Linked DNA regions of Homo sapiens. The protein of the gene in region 1 interacts with the protein of each later gene in a pairwise test. Each region holds a gene or a part of one and is shown on either strand. Other genes may lie near its edges.

Region 1 (3,500 bases):
CCCAGAGCGGGAGGCACCTGGCCGAGAGGGCAGGGCCCGGGCCCAGCACAGTGCCAGCTTCCTGTCAGTGCCGCTGTAGGTGACACCAGGAAGTGGGTAGGCCTCTTCCCAGTTGAAGTAGCAGGCCTCCACCGCTGGCCGGAAGCCGGGGAAGAGCCGCTCCAGCGTCTTCTTGTGTTGGCCCCGCTTGACGTTCTCAATCACCTTCAGTTGCCACTGCCGCAGCTGCGTACACAGTTCCCGGCGCCTGTGGGAACAAGGGGCAGGAGGCTGCTGAGGGGCTACTGGGAAAGGATGGGCATGGAGTAGGTGTACACCCCAAAGAGAGGCATGGGGAAAGGATACAGGAAAGTACTTCTTGACCCAGCCCCATAAGCATCACTGAAACACTGGAGAATTTTGAAAAGTGGGTGTTATTTAGGGGAAGGAAGGATGAAAGCCTCTCAGAAAAAGGACTCGTAAATCACTGCTAACACCAGTGCTCAGCACCTCCCGTTTCCCGAGGACTAAAATCATGGTATGTCTCTGCAAACAAGGAGATGAAGGCTCAGTCTGTCCTGAGCTGGCCCAGGCTCAGTTCTGTGGTGAGCCTCAGGGGAGACTCACCGCTGGGGGCTGAGTGCAGGGTCCAGCACGGCCAGCCTCCACAGTGTGACCATCTCGTCACACATGCTGGCACAGGCATGGGCTGCCACCTCTGACTGCCCGTTGCTACGGCCCGTGTGCCCACTGGCACTGCTGTGTGAGGCTGAGGTACGTACGCTATACCACCAACCTGTTATCTGGAGACAAAGAAGGCTGTGAGCTGCACCTGAGAGCTCAGAGAAAGGCAGAGTAGCCCTCCCAGAGTCCATTTCAGCAAGAGGAGGATGAGGCAGGGGGAGGGAAAGAATGAGCTACCACGGGGCTCCCCAACGCTGAGTGATTACCTGTTCATAGGTGAGGCACTGGTCAGTGAGGATTTCCAACAAGGGGGCAGCATTGCTGTCCCTCCGCTTGAACATCTCCCGCACAATGCTTAGCAGGTTCCAGACGCCCTCTGGCTCACGGCCCCTCAGAGGGCGCAGCAGACATGCCCATTCAGCAGCGGCTGGCGGCTCCGTGGAAGACAGATACATGGAGTTCACATCACTGTAAAAGCAGAGGAACAGAAAACCATGACAGTAAGACGGGGCTGAATGAAACCTAAAAGGGCTTCCGGCCCCAAAATACAGAAGATAGAGGGAAAAAGACATCTGTAACAAAATTTTTTTTTTTGAGACCAAGTCTTGCTCTGTCGCCCAGGCTTGAGTGCAATGGCGCGATCTCACCTCACTGCAACCTCCACCTCCCGGGTTCAAGCAATTCTCCTGCCTCAGCCTCCCAAGTAGCTGAGATTACAGGCGCCCGCCACCACGCCTGGCTAATTTTTGTTTTTTTAGTAGAGATGGAGATTCGCCATGTTGGCCAGGCTGGTCTCGAACTCCTGATCTCAGGTGATCTGCCCACGTCAGCCTCCCAAAATGCTGGGATTATAGGTATGAGCCACCGCCCCCAGCCACAAAAACTCTTTAAAAAATCTTTCTCTGTTTCCATTTCCTGATCTATCAAAAGAAGAAAAGGAACTCTTGCTAGGTAAGAGCAGACCACTCTGTGACTGTACAAGGTCATCATCTTCCATCAATTCGTTAGTGACAACTGTGTGCCAGGCACTGTGCCAGTTCAGGGAATAAAAGGTAGGGGTCACAGGCATGAATAGAAGAAAGGATCTGTCATCAGCCTGAGGGACGCTCCCCCTCCACCACAGACACAGGTATGCAGAGATCCGATTTACCTGAAGACCACAGGGGAGGGGCCACAGAACTTGTGCAGTGTCTTTTTGATGTTGTCAGTGAGTGTCGATTCATCCAGATACCAAGTACTCTGGTCCGATGCTGAGGGCCCTGCTGTGGGGTCTGAGGATGACAGGCAGTCAGTCATCTAGAGATAGGGGCCTGGATTTGCCTGACAACAGCAAGCCTTGAGTAAATGGCGCTCTGTACTACAAGCTGGCTTTCTTCCTACTGCCAATCTTTCTCACCACACTCACCCGGAGCTCCACACACTGTATTGATGGCTGTTGACTGGGAAGACAGGAGTTCGTCCAGGAGACGCTGAGCTGTGGGGAGGATCTGAGGGAGAAAGAGACGGAGGCAGGCAGAACACGGCCTAGGTGAACCCATGGAGGCCTGGGCCTAACAGGAAGGCTGTTATGCGGCCTGGCCCGGAGCTAATTGCAGGAGGGGGTGCCGACCTCACCCACCTGCTGAGGGAGCTCACTGATGAGGTACTGAGCAAACTTTTGCAGCTGGTCCCTCTGTAGCCGGGACAGGGACTCTGAGACTGGGGCTCGCAGGCAGACTGCAGAAGCCTGAAGGGGACACAGAGAAAAATGGAACAATCTGAGAACAGGTTTGCTGGAGCTGGAGCTGGGGGACAGAGAGGCAGAGTAGGCGAGGCGAGGGGGCTCACATTGTAGCCAGGCATGCAGCAGAGAAGGGGGGGATGGAGTGTAGGATAGGGCCGGGATAAATTGGGAGGGCCTCACGTTGTGGATGCGGAAGAGACAGAGTGCCACGACGTGGGTGCACCATTTGGCCCCAGCCCCACAGGTACAGCTGCAGGAAGTGACCCGGCAGCGGTCAAACATCACAGCCACGTTGTAGGCCCCTTTAGGAGGGACCATCTGAGGTGGCACCACTGTAGCACTCAGGTGGAACCCTGGGGAGAAATGGGGGCATGGTCAGGGAGTGCTGTCAGGACCTGGGTCTCTGCCCTTGACCCTGGCCCTGCAGTTATTCAGACAACATGCTCCAGCTTCTTGCGGTGTGTTCTTACTTCATAAGCCAGGGGATGGGAGGAGCAGGATGTGCCACATGGCATGATGGCCCACTCACCTATCTGCAATGGGTCCTTCACAGCCCGCATGCGGAAGAGCTGATCCCCTCGCTGAAACTCATCCGCACTGCCATTGGCCAGGCACGAATACAGCCTGGGGGTGAAGAAGAGGACACAGCCACAACTCAGCAAATAACCTTTGGCAGACCCTGTCAGAGACCACAATGCCCTAGGCACTCTCTCCCTAGCCTCATTCCTTCCCCAGGGCGGGGGGTGGGGGGGAGGGAGTGGAATCCCAGGCAATCCCTCCCTTGTCTTCCTCTTACCACTGCCCCAAATACAATGTCTCCTTTGTTCTATGGGAAACCCAGCAGACAGTGTGGAGTATCAGGACCCCGCTCCCCACCATCAGTCCTTTGGCCTCACCGAATGTCCTCTTCATTCTCAGGGAAGCTCCAAAAAGCAATTCGGAGCTGTAGCTGCTCAGGCACTGGTGGGTAAACTTTCTCCACCACTTCAAATGGGATATGAAATGCCACCTGCTTTGCTGACAGCTCCACCAATGGGATCACCAGTCCATCTTTGCAAACAATGGTTGGGATCAGGGGAAAGAGAATAGGAAATGAAAAGGGCCATGGTCTCTT
Region 2 (3,500 bases), on another chromosome or scaffold:
CGCCCACTTGCCTCTGCTCCCACCCTGTGGTCTCTGCACGTGCCAGCTCCCCTTTGCTTTCCACCGTGAGGGGAAATAGCCTGAAGCCCTCACTGGATGCCCAATCCTGAACTTTCCCAACCAGCAGAACCATGAGCCAAATAAACCTCATTTCTTTATAAATTACCCAGCCTCAGATATTCCTTTTTGGCAACACAAAAATGGACTAAGAGAACTAGAGTAGCTGATAGAATTTTTTAAAAGAAGGGTAAAGTTGGAGGAACTATACTACTTGATTTTGAAGCTACAGTAATCAGGACAATGTGGTGAAGGGACAGACACGTAAGTCAATGGAATGGAGACGAGAGATTTCTACAAATATGGTCAATGGGTTTTTTTTAACAAAGGTACAAAAATCAATTTAATGGAGAAAAGACAGTCTTTTCAGCAAATGTTACTGGAATAGTTGTCATCCATATCTAAAAAACAACACCTCAACCTCACATCTCATACACAGCTGAACTTAAAATTGATCATAGATCTAAGTGTGTGAAATGTAAAACTATAAACCTCCTTGAAAAAATCATAGAAAATCTTCATCACCTGGACTTGGGCAAAGACTTTTTACTCTAAAAGCGTGATCCATAGCAGAAAATGTTGATAAATTGAATTTCATCAAAACTAAAAATGACTGCTCTGCAAAAGGATGATGCTAAGAGAATAAAAAAGACAAGCTAAGATTAGGAGAAAATATTGCAAAGAACATATCCAGTGTGTGTTCTGAATATACAGAGAAATCTCAAAACTCAACAGGAAGAAAACAAGCCAATTGAAAATGGGCAAAATACTTGAACAGACACTTTACCAAAGTGGATATACAGATATCAAATACACACATGAAAAGATGTTCAGCATAGCCATCAGGGAAATGCACATTAAAGCCACAGTGAGATATCACTTACACCCATTGAAAAATGACTACAATAAAAAAAAAATCTGATAGTAATACCAACTGTCATCGAGGATGAGGAACAGCTGAAAGTCATGCATTGCTGGAGGGAACATGCCACTGTGGAAACAGGTGGGTGCTTTCTTATAGACTTGTATGTGCACTCACCTTATGCCCAGGAGTCCCTCTCCTGTGTGTTCAACCCAGAGATATGCAAGCTGTGTTCACACAAAAACCTGTATGTGAATGATTATACTAGCTCTCTTTATAATTGCAAAAAAAAAAAAAACAAAACCTGGAAACAACCCAAGTGTCCTTCATCTGGATAATCCTTAAGGATAAACTGGTGCGTCCACACAGTGGAATACCACTGAGCAGTGAAGAGGAGCCAGTTATTGAAACAGGTAATTTGGAGGAACCCCAGAAACGGTACAGTGAGTGAAAGAAACTTGTCTTGAAAGGTTATGTACTGTTTGGTTCCATTTGTATGATATTCTCAAAAAGACACAAGACCATGGGGATGGAGACCAGATCGGTGGCTGGAGAGGCTGGGGTCGGGGAGGGCATGACCACCAGAGAAAAGGGTGAAGAGTGTTTTGGGTGGCAGAGCTGTGTGTATGCTGGCTGTGGTTGTGAGGACAAAATCCACACAAGCGCTCAAGTTCGTAGGCTGTACGCCAGAAAAGCTGTTTCACTACATAACTGAAAAAATAAGATTGAAAAATAAGATGTATATATTTTTTGTGTGCGTGTGTAGAAAAATACTTGAAGGTAAACTGCAGAGTGATAACAGTGGTTCCTTCTAGGTACTGGGTTAATATGTGATTTTTATGTTTGTTTGAGCTTTTCTAAGTTTTCTACATTTTCCGTACAAAACATGTATTACTTCTGTAATAAAAGCAGCTTGAGATTATTTAAGGAAGCAAAACACTTCTGTTGTTTCTCATCAACTACAGGATGAAGTGCAGGCTCCCTGGGTGGTTTGCAGGGGCCACAGGCCTTGGCCCCACCTCGCTGGTGCTCCCTCTACTCCTTTCTGTGTTTGAAGCAAGTTCTGGTTCAGACAGAAAGCCTGGCCTTTGAGGGCGTTGGGTCCCCACTTCCTCAGTCATAGATGTGATGTGCTTCCCTTGACTTGGGACCTTCTGAGGGATGCAAGGTGGACCAAAGGACCCGTGAATGGCCAGGGCATGCCTGCGTGGCTTTCGGTTTCTTAAGCAGTGATTTCAGTCCACTTAAAGGGTGTGAAAATTCTGAGAATGCTACGGACCAAATATATTTTATGTAACAGTTGGGACCCGGCAACACTTCAGGGCTCTTTCAAAATCTGGTAGCTACGAGCTCTTCCGTGACTGAGATGGGACAAGAGTGAAGATTTGTCCTTGCTTTTAGCTCTGCTCCAGTTCATAGTTCTAATGGGAAATTATGTGACTTAAACCCAGGCTGTGAGATGCATCAGTGACGTGTGGGCATAAAATAAACCCTCGAGATGTTCTCTTGCATGGTACACTGGCCTAGGCAGGAATATTCTTGAGGCTAAAACTGTAGAACTGTCAGACTAGTGTTACGAATGTGGTGGTGAGAGGCCTGTGCAGCCGCGGGGCCTGTGATGTGTCTCCTGTGTGTCTTTCACTCCTATGCAGTTTGAGTTCATGATCGAGTCCATCCTGTATGCCCGGGATGCCTGGCTGAAGGAGGACGGGGTCATTTGGCCCACCATGGCTGCGTTGCACCTTGTGCCCTGCAGTGCTGATAAGGATTATCGTAGCAAGGTGCTCTTCTGGGACAACGCGTACGAGTTCAACCTCAGCGCTCTGAAGTAAGTGTCCACAGCTGGGACTGGCACCGTCTTGTGGGGCCTCCTGGTCCACAGTCTGCAGGTGGGCCAAGGCCCTGGGAGATCCCATACGACGGTTGGATAAATGAGGGTACCTGTGCACCCAGATAGGACAATCTGTTGTAGCATTGGAGTAATTAAAGCAGTATGGTGCTATAACAAGACAGATGGGCAGAGCAGGGTAGAATGCAAGGAACAAAAATTTTCGTATGTGAAAAAGGTGGCATTACGATTAGGAGGGAGTGAGGGCCAAGTCAGCAAATTATTCTGGAGCAGTTGATTAGCCCTTGTTCTCTCACGCCATACGTGAAAACTTAATTCTGCATGGAATCAGCGTCAGCGACAGACATCCATGGGGGCCTGTGTGCACCATCTTAGGTGGAGAAATGAGCAGCAACAATGGATGGAATGGACCCTGGGCTAGATAGAATCTGGCAGTCTATGTGGCAGAAATCAGCAAAAACACGATTGTAAAAGCAAACAAGTAATTAGAGAAATCACGTGCTGTCAGGTCTTGGAATCAATTAGAAAGAGATGACTAGCCAGATGGAATTGCAGCCCAATCATGTGAACAGGCAAACCGCAAAAAATAAATAAAATTACCAATAAATATATGAAAAATTATAATGTTGTTAGTAGTTAAAATGCGAATTAAAATACATGCTGTTTTCCCTACCAGACAAGCAAAGAGTAAATTAAAATAGTAGCCCAGGCTTGCCTGGCAGTGGCAGGGAG

What was found. Proteins that work in one complex are often made in the same cells at the same time.
Region 2: the proteins of ZSWIM8 (region 1) and PRMT2 interact in a two-hybrid assay, tested with the Homo sapiens proteins (one large-scale study listed by BioGRID and IntAct).

The regions. Positions count from the first base shown.
Region 1 is NC_000010.11:73,788,606-73,792,105, reverse strand, and holds part of ZSWIM8 (zinc finger SWIM domain-containing protein 8), read right to left. Parts: intron 3,437-3,500; coding exon 3,283-3,436; intron 3,011-3,282; coding exon 2,916-3,010; intron 2,740-2,915; coding exon 2,567-2,739; intron 2,390-2,566; coding exon 2,282-2,389; intron 2,151-2,281; coding exon 2,069-2,150; intron 1,935-2,068; coding exon 1,814-1,934; intron 1,132-1,813; coding exon 930-1,131; intron 783-929; coding exon 607-782; intron 248-606; coding exon 1-247. UniProt on the Homo sapiens protein: Substrate recognition component of a SCF-like E3 ubiquitin-protein ligase complex that promotes target-directed microRNA degradation (TDMD), a process that mediates degradation of microRNAs (miRNAs).
Region 2 is NC_000021.9:46,656,174-46,659,673, forward strand, and holds part of PRMT2 (protein arginine N-methyltransferase 2), read left to right. Parts: intron 1-2,571; coding exon 2,572-2,747; coding exon of another isoform or gene 2,748-2,751; exon of another isoform or gene 2,752-3,500. UniProt on the Homo sapiens protein: Arginine methyltransferase that methylates the guanidino nitrogens of arginyl residues in proteins such as STAT3, FBL, histone H4. Acts as a coactivator (with NCOA2) of the androgen receptor (AR)-mediated transactivation.